Regions from separate parts of the Homo sapiens genome. Here region 2 is linked to region 1. Evidence: fine-mapped expression QTL. Tissue or cell type: sigmoid colon. Region 1 holds a variant in brackets; the other region holds the start of a gene. All regions are shown on one strand. Distances are from middle to middle.

Region 1 (7,735 bases):
AGACACCAGGGATACATTTTGCTGCCATTTAAGATTAATTATTTGTAATATGTTTGTTAAGAAAATTGTTTTAAAATTTTATTTCTGTCTCTCAATTTAGGAGTGATAGCTCCTAGATTTCAATCACATAGACTGAATGACATATACAAGGGTTTTTGAAGTATCTGAGATGGACAAAGCTCAAAGTATGTTTTCCAATGGCAAAGGCAGAACTAGATCCACTTTTTTCCAACACAACAGCCAGGTTTCCAAGAGCAAATGAGCAGTGAGGTGAGGTGAACATAGAAAAGTGAAAAGATAAAACTAGCTAGTTGTTTTGTTAGAGGGACAGAGGATATATATATAAGCAAGGTTCTTTGGCCTGAAACCAAATTCAGCAACTCAACCATATTGACTTTTGCCCATATTTATTTAGGTTGAGCCCTATAAAATTCCTGATATTATACTGGTTTTGACCAACAACGTCAATTATTGCATATGCTTCAACCTAATGCTTCAGAAAGAAAGTCATGGCCACCTAGAACTTGGCATAACCTGCAACTGCCTTAACTCCAAAGCCTTAAACGTCATGGCTGCAGCCTCCTGTCCTCTAAACCTCTCATTTCCTCACCTCTATCACAAATCCATGTAAAGTCAGATTGGTTTACAGCTCTTCAGGCCCAGTGAGCCACAGGTCCCCTCGGCATCTTTGCAAACAACTCCCACAGATACCTCAGTATAATTATTTTTAAAATATGTCCAGGAATTTTTTTCCTTAAGCCACGAGGCTTGCCAAAATACTTCGTAGAAAATACTATTTTGATAGTATTAGAATTTTACCAATGACTTAAGCAAGAGGCACAAAAGTGGAATGACCTCCAACTATGAGTTTTGATGAAAGTGAAAAATGCTACCTAAGCCAAAACCACTAGTTCAGGCATTCAGCTTTCCCCTGTCTTATAAAATCCCAACCCCACTTTAATCTAGGGTCAGCTGTCCTCTAGATGCTCTCTGATATGTATCAGTTGAACAAAGTCTTTAATCTCTCTGATGTGTATCCGTTGAATAAAGCCTTAATCTCTATTTGAGTCACTTAAATAACTTTCTTTTGACTTTTGATACCCAGAAAAATGGATTTGGAATGCTGTTTGGATTGTCTGTCCTCAAAGCTGTCTATTGGTGTGTGTCCAGTGGTGTTTGGGTGGGTAGAGTGGGATCTGCCTCTCTCTACCATGGTGCTGAGTTTTGTCTAATGTTGCTTTACTAAGAACACTGCTGTACAGGACAGAGCAAATTTGAGGATGGACACTATATGAGTTAGATGGAGCTCCAAGGTGATTATTTGATTACACTGTCTTAGAAACCATTTGAAAGGAAAGAAGGTGGAATGAAATAGGGGCAGAAGGGAATTAAAATATCCTTGGGTGTGCGATGAGTGTACCTTTCAGCTCATGAACTAAGGAGTCCAATAACTAGAACTTACTTTATAGTCCACTACTCTACTTAATTTCCAACTCAAGCCCTGGGCCTGAGGGCTGGGCAACAGGGCGAAACTCTGTCTCTACAAAAAATACAAATATTGCCCTGCTTGGCTACAAGAAAAACAACCTCAGCTTTTCTTGGGAACCCCACACAAGCCTAGGGTCTTTCTAAGGCACTGGGAGTAGGGGAAAGCTATTTGGTCCTCAGTCATCAGTACCTATGGGAAGTCACAATGACATCTGTTATCCTGTCCTCCTGACTCCTTCAAGGCTAGGCAGGTCTCAACTATTCCTGTGCTGGAAGTCTTTCTGAAATGTGTCTTTCTCTGGAATCTTGCTCTAACAGGGCTACCAAAAAAACAGGGTAATGCACCTCTAATCCTGCCACCACAGCACTCTTCTCTTCTTCCCAGCCTGGAACAATCTAATTTTTTTTTTTTTTTTTGAGACGGAGTCTCACTCTACCACCCAGGCTGGAGTGCAGTGGCATGATCTTGGCTCACTGCAACCTCTGCCTCCCAGGTTCAAGCGATTCTCCTGCCTCAGCCTCCCAAGTAGCTGGGATTACAGGCGCCCGCCACTACACCCAGCTAATTTTTTTTTTTTTTTGTATTTTTAGTAGAGATGGGGTTTTGCCATGTTGGCCAGGCTGGTCTCGAACTCCTGACCTCATGATTCGCCCACCTCGGCCTCCCAAAGTGCTGGAATTACAGGCTTGAGCCACCGCGTCCAGCGGGAACAATCTATTTTTAGTCTGGGGAAAATCCTTCTCCTTTCCTGTTTCTTCAACTAAATTATTCTCAGGAATTCACTTCTAAGTATAAAAAGCCAGCAAGACTTCTAGGGTAGTTCTGTTTTCTGACTTGCCACATACCTCCCATGAAGCAATGACCACCAAGCTGACTTCAATGAGGTGAAGGGAAGGGGGAAACAGAGGGAATAAAGAACACATAAATTGATGTATCTTTTGATTTTTACTTCCCTTCCATGATGTCTGCTCCATGCTGAGTCTGGCAACTTGGGCTTTGGAATTTACTGATTGGGTAATGCTCCCTGGAGCTGACAGTGGGTGCCCCTGCCCAAAGGCTTAGACAGCAATCAGGGAAGGGTGGCCCTCCAAAGTGAGTGTTATCATAAAAGAGGCAAAGAGAATTAGGGCGGCAGTAAAAACTTGGTAGAAGACTAAGCAGTGAATCTTGGTAGTCTTTTGTGACCTTCTGCCATCCCATAATGGTTGGATGTTTCTCCTGTGCCCCCAGAACACTTTCTTCTATTGCCATAGACCACATTCTACTGGGATGGCCATCTATCTTCATTCCAGCCTCCTTCTATATAGAAAGGAAGTTCCTGAGCTGAGGACCTATATTTGTTCATCTGGATAGCATAACCCCTAAAAGATGGAGACTGAATGAGTACAGATGGAATGAGTAACTCCTTGGAACATCATGGACTCTGTACCAGCCACAGATGACTCGCATACCCTGGGTGAGCAAGGCCTGCAGATGGAAACTGTGGATAACAGCAAACTGTGTTGCTCAACAAAATGAAGATCAATAGATAGGAAGCACAGGCCAAAGCAAGCCAGACAAAATTTAATGCTCACAAATATAAAATCATGGATTTGAATTGTAAAATTCAGCTGGAATAGAGGTGATATGACTGAAGAGCAGCCACAAATAAACAGCCAGATGAAGGGACACATTTGAGAAGGCCTAGAATTGTCCTGAGCACAGGAGTGTCTGTCCCCATGGAGTTGAGGTGTGCTTTCCACAGGCACTCCAAACTCTGTCCTTTTGGGCTTTTATGGGGGCTTGATTAGCTAATTGGCCTTTAGTGAAATTAACCTTTGGCTCCTCTCCTCCCAAGAGGTTATGGGTGGGCTGAATAGTCTCAACCCTCTTAATTGTGCCTTGGTCTTCACTGTGATGAGCCCCCATCCTGAAGCTACCTAGGGGCTGCCAGCCACCAGTCTCAATAGCATACCTCGCTTTGGAGATTCTAAGGATATTAGGAGTTGTAAGCCAGAGCGTGGGAGCAAGGGTCAAATATTTAGTTCACACTACCACAGATGGGTCCCAGAAACTTCTTAGTAAATTCCCATTTTATCTAATCCATTAAAAGCTTCATCATAAACATGAAATTACTT[G/C]AATTTTTAAAACAGTAACAGTAGAAAACCCAAATGCAGTGCTAATTAGATATAATAGCAATAAGTATTTTTAAATAGCATATCCAGAAGAGAGGTGGTGGTTAATATGAGAGTGTAATTAATCCATTTGCTGAATTAATTACCACTTTCCTCATCATCTGGGCTAGCAGAGTGTTAGACAAATAAGACGAACATTGTCAGTCAAAACATAAATATTAGAACCAACCTAAAAGTGTAGATGAATAGTTAAATAAATTATTCATGAAATACTCTGTACCTGTTTTTCAAAGTGAGATGGAGTTCCTTGCTGTGCCCTGAGAAGGTATCCAGGATTCTTAGTCCCTGGCAACAAGACGTCACCAAAAATAAAAAAATAAAAAAAACGTAAGAGAATCTACAGGATGGAGTACAGTGGCACAATCATAGCTCACTGCAGCCTTGACATCCTGGGCTCAAGTGATTCCCTTGCCTCAGCCTCCCAAGTAGCTAAAATTACAGGTGTGCTCCACCAGGCCAACTAAGTTTTAAAATTTTTTTGTAGGGTTGGGGTCTCACTATGTTGCTCAGGCTGAAAAAAAATAGTAAATAACTAAGTAAATACATTGTTTAGTGAACAAAAGTAAACCATACATAGAACATAATTCCAAACAAAAAGGGATACGTGGGTTTAAAGCTTTTTTTTGTATCTGTATAAACACAGAAAATACTTGGATGAATACGTGTCAAATTGCTAACGTGGTTACTTAGTGTCAAATTGCTAAAGTGATTACTTCTGAAAAAGGGATTGCAAAGACAGAGAGAGGGTTTTTCACTTCAGAATAAAAATGTCAGGTTTAGAAGGATACATGCTCAAGGTATGTGAAATGAAACATGCAAGATATAAAACTTCACATCAATACAATCACACTTTTATAAGACATCTAGCATATATTCATTTTTAAAAGTAAAAGAATTTGTAAAAAACTAAGAGTAGTCATATTTAGATGGTGAATTATGACTGATCGTTGTTTTCTTTGATGCTTTAAAAAATTTTCCAAAATGTCTGCAATAAAAATTTATTATGTTCATCATAGACAGACCCACGCTTTTTAAAAGAAAGTTTTTAAAGGAAGCATTACCCAAACTCAGTTTTGTTAATTGAAGGCATGCCCCCTCCCCCTGTAACTAAAGAGGAATTTCTCTGGGTTCCCTACCAAACAAGAAAAATTTTCCCAGTGGCAGGGGATGGAGATCTTCCTAACAACTTGCCGTCCTTTGTAGCTGATGCTCACAAGTACGTGGATGGCAATGAAACAAGCCTCTATGGCTAAGCTTCCCCAGACTTGCTCACTCCACTCCTCATTTATCCATTAAGCCCACATGCTGAGGGCTGTCATGCATTTACAGTGTGTATCAAGCTGCCCCAGCCAAAGTGATTTCTGGCTCATTATGCTACTCCCAATAAATTTGGGGATTGGTCAGCTTCAAAACAAAATTGGGCAAGTTATATATATATATAGGCAAACAACAAAAATTGAGTTCTGTGTGTGTATGTTTATGAAGGGGTGGTACATTCCCAGAAGACAGTGACAGGATAGAATGCAAGTTCCAAAATCACTAAAGATAGGCCCTGACAACTAAGGATCCTCTCCAGGCAGCTTTGCAGGAAGCAATGGAAACAAATAGGAAGAGAAAGGAAGAGAAAGGCACATGCCACATGGCAGTTTGTGAACAATACAAGACAAAACTTTGAACACTGCCCCCTGTCGCAAAATAAATGGGGGCCACTTTTGAGGGGTAAGTTCTGATATATGGTTGATAAATGAATAGGTACTTTATTCATAAGACTAAATCTTCAAACAACAAGAGCAAATAATAGCTAGGTGTGGTGGCTCAAACCTGCAATCCCAGCACTTTGGGAGGCCGAGGTGGGAGGATTGCTTGAGGCAAGACCAGCCTGAGCAACATAGCAAGACCCTGTCTGAAAAAAAAAAAGTAAATTATAAGAGACAAAAAGTTCCAACCTCCTCTTTAGAGCACTGCATTCCAGAAAGCAGTAGAGTAACATCTGCAGTTCTGCAGTGTCTGGGAGGAAAGCGTTGGGACCAAGGACTCAGCATGCACCAATTTTATTTCAAGAGTAAAGAAAATAGAGATATTATCATAAAAGCTTGAACCTACAACAGACAGAGTGTTGTAGGTTCCCAGACCCAGAACACACAAATGTGGGCAGACAGGGGACATCCATGAGACAGAGGATTCCTCCCACAGAGCTTTTCTGGAGACCTTAGAGTTTGATTCCTGGGACTTGAGGTAGTGTGTCCAATATCCAGTAAGGCTATAAACAGATAAAACCTTTCTAGAGTGTGATTTGTTAAATATGGAACAAAAGCCTTAAAATATATGTATACTTTGATCTAGAAATTCTGCTACCAAGAAGAAACCAAGCAATATTTATTTATAAGGATGCTAATTATCATAAAAGAGAAAGCAGAAATATAATAAATGTACAAATATAGGGGACTGGTTCAATAAATTACAGCACATGTATATGTAGTAGTCATTAATGCTGCCCACTGAATATTTCTGGTTGATTCTTCACCTTTGGGATATATCACAGGACTGCATTTCCTGGCCCCTTCTACTTGGGTAAGGTCATGCAACCTATTCTATCCAATGAATTGTAAGCAAAAGTAATATGTGTTCATCCCAATCCAAGTGTTTGGTTAACAGTGCTAGACCTTCAAGCTCTCTGCTCACTCTGCTGCGGTGACCAGCAATGTTCTAAATATGGTTGCTCTGTAAGCCAGGGTCAAGGAATAATGTCAACAGTGACATAGAGCAGCAGAGTCCCCACAAGTAACCTGAAGAAAAATACACTGTGAGATTTGGTGATTGCTTGTTACTGCAACATAACCTAGCCTATCCTGATGAATACAAAGGAAGTATGATGCAACCACTGATAGATATGATCTAGTATATTTATTGACAGAAGCACATTTTCACAGTGTACTGTTACATTAAACAGCAGCTATAAAACATCAAATACAATTTAAATCAGTTTCACATATTATACAAAGTAAAAATACTGAAGAATATTCCCCACATTTTGCTGATTAATGAATTGTGAAACTATGTAAGCCTGTGTGTGTGTGTGTGTGTGTGTGTGTGTGTGTGTGTGTGTGTGTTGATGAGGGAAATCAGTACCTTCTTCCTAAGAGTTTTATGTCATATATTCTAAAAGCTAAAAATGCTAAACAAATTCTGTAATTCCATTACTAATATATATCTAAACCACCTTTCTTACTTATATTTTACCTTTTTTAACTTTACTCACCCTACTATCAGAATGTATACTTGAATACTTTTCAAATGTATATTCTAACTTTCATGTATTTCTTTTTTTGTTTGTTTAAATACAAGGACCTCCTCCTATAGCTCTCAAAACACTTTCTGAAAAGTGGGAAGGAATCTTGTGTTATATATAAAAAATAAATGAGGTGAAACTATCATCTACTTCTGGCTGGAGGAAACTCCCCCAAAGGTCACATTTCAAAATTTTTCAAGTCTGTGGTTTTATTCTCAAAACAGTGTTTCTCTATATACTTTTTTATTCAAAATTTCAACAATGAATATGCATTGTTAATATAATTGGGGAAAAGTTATGTTAAAAATTACTTGGGATGAACCCAGGTCTCTATATTTTAAAAAGACTCTCAGATGATTCTAATTTATACTAAATTTTGGGAACCATTCTTCTAAACCTATTCTTTAAAACCCCTCATCCTTTTTTCAAATTTCAATTAGGATGGTCAAAGAAATATAAGTGAAAGCTGGGAAATAATACTTCCCAATGCCAGAAACACTCAGGAATATCTTCATGGTGAAATGAGATCAGATCCAGAGATGGGCTGACTGATGCATAACTCACTACAAGTAAAGGAAGCACTTGTAGGGAGAAAACCATGGAAGACCTGCTGCCCAACAGAACCCCACTAACATCCCTTGGCTTCCAGCCTGGGAGTTGGAGAAGAGTGCAGGCCGTGAGATGCTTTGGATGTGGTCAATTTCTTTTATTTTTATTTTTACTTATTTATTTTATTTTATTTACTTTTTCAAGATGGAGTTTCACTCATGTTGCTCAGGCTGT
Region 2 (7,168 bases), 70 kb after region 1:
CACTAGAATGGAAGCATCACAAGCACAGGGATTTTGTCTGTCTTGCTCACCACTGAATCCCAACAGTGCCCGAAAGACAGTTGGTGTCTTTGATAGGGTTATACTAAAATTAGACAGACTTGAGTACATGTCGTTTATTTGGGAGAGGAGGAAGAAATGAGAAGAGTAAGACAAAGAAGGAGGAAAAAACAACTAAAGAGATGTTATCAGCTGGGCTTGGTGGCTCACACTTGTAATCCCAACACTTTGGGAGACTGAGAAGGGAGGATTACTTGAGCCTAGGAATTTGAGACAAGCCTAGGCAACATGGTGAGACCCTGTCTCTACAAAAAATTAAAGTATTAGCAGAGTATGGTGGTGTGCACCTGTGTTCCCAGCTACTCAGGAGGCTGAAGTGGGAAGATTGTTTAAGCCAGGAAGCCGGGTTTGCACCACTGCACTCCAGCCTGGGTGACGGAGTAAGACCCTGTCTAAAGAGAGAGAGGGAGAGAGAGAGAGAAAAAAAAAAGAGAGAGAGAGCTGTTATCAAGTTCACCGATACAGGCAAAGGACCGTTGAGAAGTCTTTAGAAGCTTCCAGAAGGGTTCATACAGAGAGACTGGGGTTCCCATTCCCCACTGGCTGAAGATTGTCTTTCGGGGAGATAACACCCAAACTTACAGGCTGAACCTCTGCAAGGGCTGAACTTTGAAGGAGATAAGCCAAGAGGGGTGCTTTGAAAGCTTGAAGTGGGAATGCTGTCTGCTGAAAACTGCCCAGCCTGGCTAGGCTGCAGCTGAAGCCAGAGGGAGAACGTGGAACTGTGGTGAGGAGCACCAAAGGCATCTGCCTCAGGAGACATCAAGCCCATTTTTTTAAGTGAACAAATGGATTATCTTTAATGCGGATATGCATCTGGATTACAGGAATAGTGTCGGCTCCAGGCCTAACTTGCTTAGGAACCATAGTCAGAATAATTAGTACCTGTTGACCCTGTAAGAAGGAAAAATCATGACTATGGCCAAGGAGTTCAGATCCCTTATGTCTTTCTATTTTCCTAGCAGCTCTTCTATCACACATTTCCTGCTCAGAATTTCCACTCCTGAGAGACAAGCGGCTACAACTGCTTTATTTTACAATAAAGAGGCAAGCAGCTCTCTTGATCGTAAATGAGAAAGGCCCATGCACAAGCCCTTCTTCAGCTTCTGATGGTCCCTGTCACCTCTGGCTCTGCACTGGCATTTCCACGCTGGCCTCCTTGGCCCACTTGTCTGGTTCTGTACCAGCTCTTTTTCCTCCACCCACTCCTTCACGCTGTCACTCCTCAGCGGTCTGTCTAGAGGCACCCTGCCACCCATTGCTAGCTGCCTTCCTCAACTCTCCCTATAACTCCCAGGCTGGCAGCCACCACCCACATGCCAGACTCTGGGTCCACCCCTCCAGTGTCTCTCTGCTCAGGACAAAGGCTCCCAAACTCCTCCTAGACTGTCAATGCACAAACGATCAACCAATCCCATACTGGACTCATTACCCGCTCCCCACTGGCCCACTACCACCACGGCCACACTCCAAGCCTGCTTTTCCTTCTGAATTCCCTGTCTTGGATAATACTCTACCACCCACCCTTGTCTCCCAGCCTGGAAACTCAAGGTCAGTCTCAGTCACCAAGTCCGGTTCCCTCTACCAGTTTCCTGAGCAGCAACAGGTTGTTCCCTGGGAGGCTGGAATTTTTCTTCTTTTCTCTACTTTTGTTTTCTGAATGTTCTCTGATGAACACTTATGACTTGCATAATGTTTATTATGTTTCCTAATAATTAATGGGTTTCATAATGGCTTATTATTCTAAAACAAATCTACCTTGATTGTTCCTGCTTGCCCATCCCCGAGGGCCTCCTATCCAGCCCTCCCCTTCCAGTCCCTCTGCCTTTTGGGCATCTTCCATATTACCACCTAGCTCCCCTCACCAAAACATTTCTCCAAGATTACCTCCTACCATCTCCACTCCATAGTCCCCAAATATCAGAATTGTTGAGAAGTGTTTGTCCACTTGTTTGCTTCAGCTCCCCTATTGTATTGTCAGCTCTTGTTCATACTGAATCCCTGGGGCCTGGCACAAAGTAAGTGTTGAATAAACATGAATTAAATGGATCAAGGCCAGGAGTTGAGTAACTGGTATAAGGTAGGGAATTTCTATAGAAATGATCTCAAAGTGTGCTTGGCGGACTAGCATTTTCAGTATGGCCTGGGAACTTGTTAGAAATGTAGATTCTTGGTGGGGCGTGGTGGCTCACGCCTGTAGTCCCAGCATTTTGGGAGGCCAAGGTGGGTAGATCACCTGAGGTCAGAAGTTCGAGACCAACCTAGCCAACATGGTGAACCCTTGTCTCTACTAAAAATATAAAAATTAGCCAGGCATGGCTGCACATGCCTGTAATCCCAGCCGCTGGGGAGGCTGAGGCAGGAGAATCGTTTGAACCTGGGAGGCAGAGGTTGCAGTGAGCCGAGATCATGCCACTGTACTCCAGCCTGGGCGACAGAGTGAGACTCTGTCTCAAAGAAGGAAAGGCAAGGAAAGGAAGGAAGGAAGGAAGGAAGGAAGGAAGGAAGGAAGGAAGGAAGGAAGGAAATGAAGAAAGAAAGAAAGAAATAAAGAAGAAAGAAAGAAAGAGAGAGAGAAAGAGGGAAAGAGGGAGAAGGAGAGACGGAGGGAGGGAGGGGGGAAGGAAGGAAGGAAGGAGGGAGGGAAGGAAGGAAGGAAGGAAGGAAGGAAGGAAGGAAGGAAGGGAGAGAGGGAAAGAGGGAAGGGGAGAGAGGGAGGGAAGGAGGGAGGAAGGGAGGGAGGGAGGGAGGAAGGAAGGGAGGGAGGGAGGGAAGGAGGGAAGGAGGAAGAAAGGAAGGAAGGAAGGAAGGAAGGAAGGAAGGAAGGAAGGAAGGAATTCGGATTCTTGGGCCCTTCCTCAGACCTACTGAATTAGAAGCTCTGGGGGTATTTCGATAACAAGTTTATGTTTCCAGACATGTCTTGCCACAATCACAAATAAGACTCTTTTTCGCAACTGAACTACACAAACCTTAGCAGGCTCGTGGCGAAACCACTGGAAAGCATTTAATCAGCTTCAGCTCTTTCAAACATGTTGCCCATAGGTTGCAGAAACGCAGCTGCCTCTCAGGATTAGAAAGTGGAGCAGCAACCGGAGGCGTCTCTGGGCCGCCCCCCCAACCCCCCCACCCCGCCTCGCCCACTCCACCCTCACACTGGCGTTGCCACAGTCCCTCCATTCCAGAGGGAATTCCAGAGCGGAATACGGATTCCGATTTTAAAATAAGCGCTTCTAAATCTTTCTCCTTGCATCTAAGACGGGTGGGGGAAAGAAAGGGAGAGGAGTTGAGGTCCCAAGGTTCAAGGCCTGGTGATCTCCAGGTCCCAGGCTGGGCGGCCTCGGTGCACGGAGAGGGCGAGGGGCGTGTTGTGGAGCCTTGGCAAGGCGCTGCTCTTCCTCGCGCCTCGGTTTGCGGTCTGTGAAATGGGGTTGGCAGTGCCTTTGCAGGGACGCGGCGAACTCAAGCACCAGCAAGCGGACTCGAACTCAAAGGGTTTCAGGGTGTAGACGACCAGAGCGCACTGAGGGGCTCCAGGTCGGCCCGCTCCGGAGCCGGGAGAGTAACCGCGTGCAGGGAAAGGCGCACGGCAGCCTCGGTGCCTCCCTTCCCTCCACCGGACGGGTGACTGACTAGGGGTGAGGTCCTCACCTCCAGGCTGCGCAGCTGAGTTCTGGAAGGTACTGTCCTGGGGGTGTGAGTGTGTGGGCCCTCAGGAAAGGTGCGAGGGGCGGATGCCGTGGTCTACCCGAGCTTGCGGGGGTGCGGTGGTCAAGTTCCCCAGGACCCTCGCTGGCGCCGCTTGTCGACAACGGGGAACAGTGGGCGCCGCGGGTGGTGGTAACTTGGCCCGGGAAGAAAACACATCCCTTTCCCAAACCGGATTCCTCTGAGCAAAACCAGATGGTGTCATCCGCATTTTACAGCTGCGTCAAGAGAGGCCCAGGACACCAAGAGCCAGCTGTGGCCAGAGCCCTTTCACTGACCCAGAACACTGGCCCTCGGAAACCTGGAGAACTGCGAGGGCTTTTAATGCGGCTGAGAAGAAAGTGAAGACCCCGACTCCTCCTCTCTCCTTCGAAAGAGCCGACACAGGTATGAAGACCAGCGCCTCGGACGCTCCGGGGTAGGGGGCCGACGCCCCCTCCCTTTCAGAATCACGCCTTGCTGATGCTCAGTCCTGCCCAGTGTCCACCCCCCACCCCCGCCCCCAGTTTCCTTTCTAGCCCCTCCGGTCCCCAAAGCGAACTAAGCTAGCGGCAGCTTCTCCATCCCGGAGGAGACTCCAAACTCCTAGGTTTCCCACCTTGGAGAGTACTGCTCTGGAATGCGCAGGGGAGCGGCACCTGGAAAGGGTTGGGCGGAAGCTTCTCGGACCCAGAGGGGGCGGACACCCGGCACCGCGCGTGGGAGGGATTAACTCCACCCCACTAGACCACCTCCCCCTCTCTCCCAGGAGCCACTTCAACCGGTTGTCGCCCCAGTGGCCGCCCTCTGAGCACGTGTTACTGCCAGTCTGCGTCAGCGTTGGGTAAATACATGACTGGCCGACGCCGCCGGGTGGGGCTATTTAAGAGACAGCCGCCCGCTGGTCCTCCCTGAACTTGGCTCAGCTGCCGGGCTGCTCCGGTTGGAAACGCCAAGCCAGCTGCGTCCTAATCCAAAAGGTAGGTCCCTCGGTTCGTCAGCGGGGGATCCAAGTGTCGTGTGTCTTTGAAGGATGCTGTCTTCAGCTTTGTGCCCATTTCCATTATGCTTTTCTATTTTCTGTGTCTTCCCTCCGAGAGCTCGAAAGACATTTCTTGAAGTCAGAAATAACGGCTCTGGGTCTAAAAGTGAGGTCTGGGTGGGTAGAGCTGCTTTAGAGCCTTTCATACGCCAGCATCATTAAGGGATGAACTACCCATTCGCTAAGATTCGCATGCAGATTGAGTTTGCTAGCTGTTACACAGCGGTGCGGGGGACTTTGCAATCTTTTCTAATAAAATATTAGAGGGTTTTAAGATTTAAATTCATTTTCTAAATACTGCAGAAAATTTCGAGGCTTTACGGATAGAAACTTGAGGGTGTTTTATCCACTAGCGATCTAAAATGCACGGGGCTTTCGAAGCCTGAGCGCTGGGCACATATTTCTGATTTTAAAACCTGCCTATGTTCTGCGTAGTGGCTTATTGCCATTTCCCACGTACACTTTGAGAAAAACTTTATAAATACGGCTTTATTTATTGCTCCTACATTTTAAACTGTGCTTCTCTTTTTCATCATTTACTGTATTTCCATATTGAAAGCTTGTTAGCTATCTGGAAAAGTGCTTTCCCCAGGGTTCTCATTTCTCCCACGGAGTCTTCCCTTTAGGATATTTTTTTCACACTATTTTTAATCTCGTGGGGTTTTATTTTTCTTCTTTCGGTTAGAAGAGAGGCACTCTGCAAACACTTCCTCAAACTTTAGGAAAGCAAAAACATTCCTTCTGCTCAACACGGCAGAAAACAGGGTCTCTGCCCCTTGGCGCTGGGTGAGGAGTTCCCAAAGACCAGCCAGGTGCGCCCGGGGGCGCGCGCCATGGCACTCGGCTGGGGTCAGCGCTTGGCGAGCCCTCGTGCTTGCGGCGGCCTGGCGGGTCTGGAGCACCTGTGTTTGTCCTAAGCCCGCTTCTGGGTGCCCGGCCCGCCGCAGGAGCTCTGTTGCCCAGCCTTTCAGTTAACGCGCCCTCCTCCTTTGCTCGCTACAGCCATGAACAGCGGCGTGTGCCTGTGCGTGCTGATGGCGGTACTGGCGGCTGGCGCCCTGACGCAGCCGGTGCCTCCCGCAGATCCCGCGGGCTCCGGGCTGCAGCGGGCAGAGGAGGCGCCCCGTAGGCAGCTGAGGGTATCGCAGAGAACGGATGGCGAGTCCCGAGCGCACCTGGGCGCCCTGCTGGCAAGATACATCCAGCAGGCCCGGAAAGGTAAGAATGCTGCCTCCCCATCCCTCACTTCTGCCCTTGTTCCCAGGCTCCCGATGCTGACCCTCTTCTCTAGCGCTAGCCTGATGGGGATGACCTCTCTCGGTAGGAAACAAGCAACATGATTTCTGGCGGTCCTTTGTAGCAATCTGAGAAGGGGTATGGAGGACTTAATTTATAAGTAAGGGGAACCTTCTTGAAAAGCTTTCTTTGAACTAATTTTTAGCAGTGTTGCTGATTAAGTTCAACACCATTTTACCAAGCCATTAAAAGATAATTATTGAAGCCTAGGAAAGGGTTCCTAGATACAGTGAATACCCTCTACTGAAAACGCAAAGGACCTTGGAGCCACCCAGATACCAACCCTTGGAAATCCTCTAGCAGGAAGGGGTCAATGCTGAGAATGCCTGAGATCTGGCTACAACAGTTTAAAAAAGCAGTGACAATGTGTCCATTTCCACCAAAGTATGTAACAGAAGGAAAGAATCAGCAGCAGTTTTGTGTTCTCCTTGCAATGACTTACAAATTATTACCCAACAAGAGAGGTATTTGTTTTTACTTTACTGTTGCAGAGATGGTCACAGTTGTAGCAAGAGCTGAGCAAGTCAGTTTTCTCAGCATCAAAGTCTTTCTCCAGGAATAAGGTGATTCAGCAGCTCACTAGCCGAGTGGCATGCAGGCAATTCTGACCTGAGGCTAGCTTTCCCCTAAGCTCCTTCCAATTCTTTGTGTGATTCAGAGGGAGGCCCATTCATCTCTTGTGACCCATAGGAATCATGCTTTGGATTGGGGCAGCTTTTTTCTGCCAACTTTATCCCCAGTGACACTAATGATGAACACCGGCTGTGGAGCAGTGTGCTGAACAGTACAAACACAGCTGGACATTAAAAGAATTCAGCAGGCCAGGAGCAGTGGCTCACACCTGTAATCCCAGCACTTTGGGGGGCTGAGGCAGGTGGATCACATGAGGTCAGGAGTTCGAGACCAGCCTGACCAACATGGTGAAACCCCATCTCTACTAAAAATACAAAATTAGCTGGGCATGGTGGCACATGCTTGTAATCCCAGCTACACGGGAGGCTGAAGCAGGAGAGTAGCTTGAACTCGGGAGGTGGAGGTTGCAGTGAGCCGAGATTGTGCCATTGC

The links. PIP is the estimated chance that this variant, and not a neighbour inherited with it, causes the effect.
Region 2: it holds the start of CCK, and the variant in region 1 is fine-mapped to the expression of CCK in sigmoid colon (GTEx, PIP 0.94).

The regions. Positions count from the first base shown.
Region 1 is chr3:42,331,505-42,339,239 of GRCh38, reverse strand. No RefSeq gene overlaps it. Among named protein-coding and RNA genes, the nearest start is that of CCK, 69 kb to the right of the region's middle. The variant G/C (reference allele first, on the strand shown) is at 3,607.
Region 2 is chr3:42,262,274-42,269,441 of GRCh38, reverse strand. CCK (cholecystokinin) reads left to right here and starts at 3,257. Exons shown (of 5, transcript NM_000729.6): 1 at 3,257-3,758; 2 at 4,005-4,173; 3 at 4,535-4,745; 4 at 5,810-6,025. The coding sequence starts at 5,812.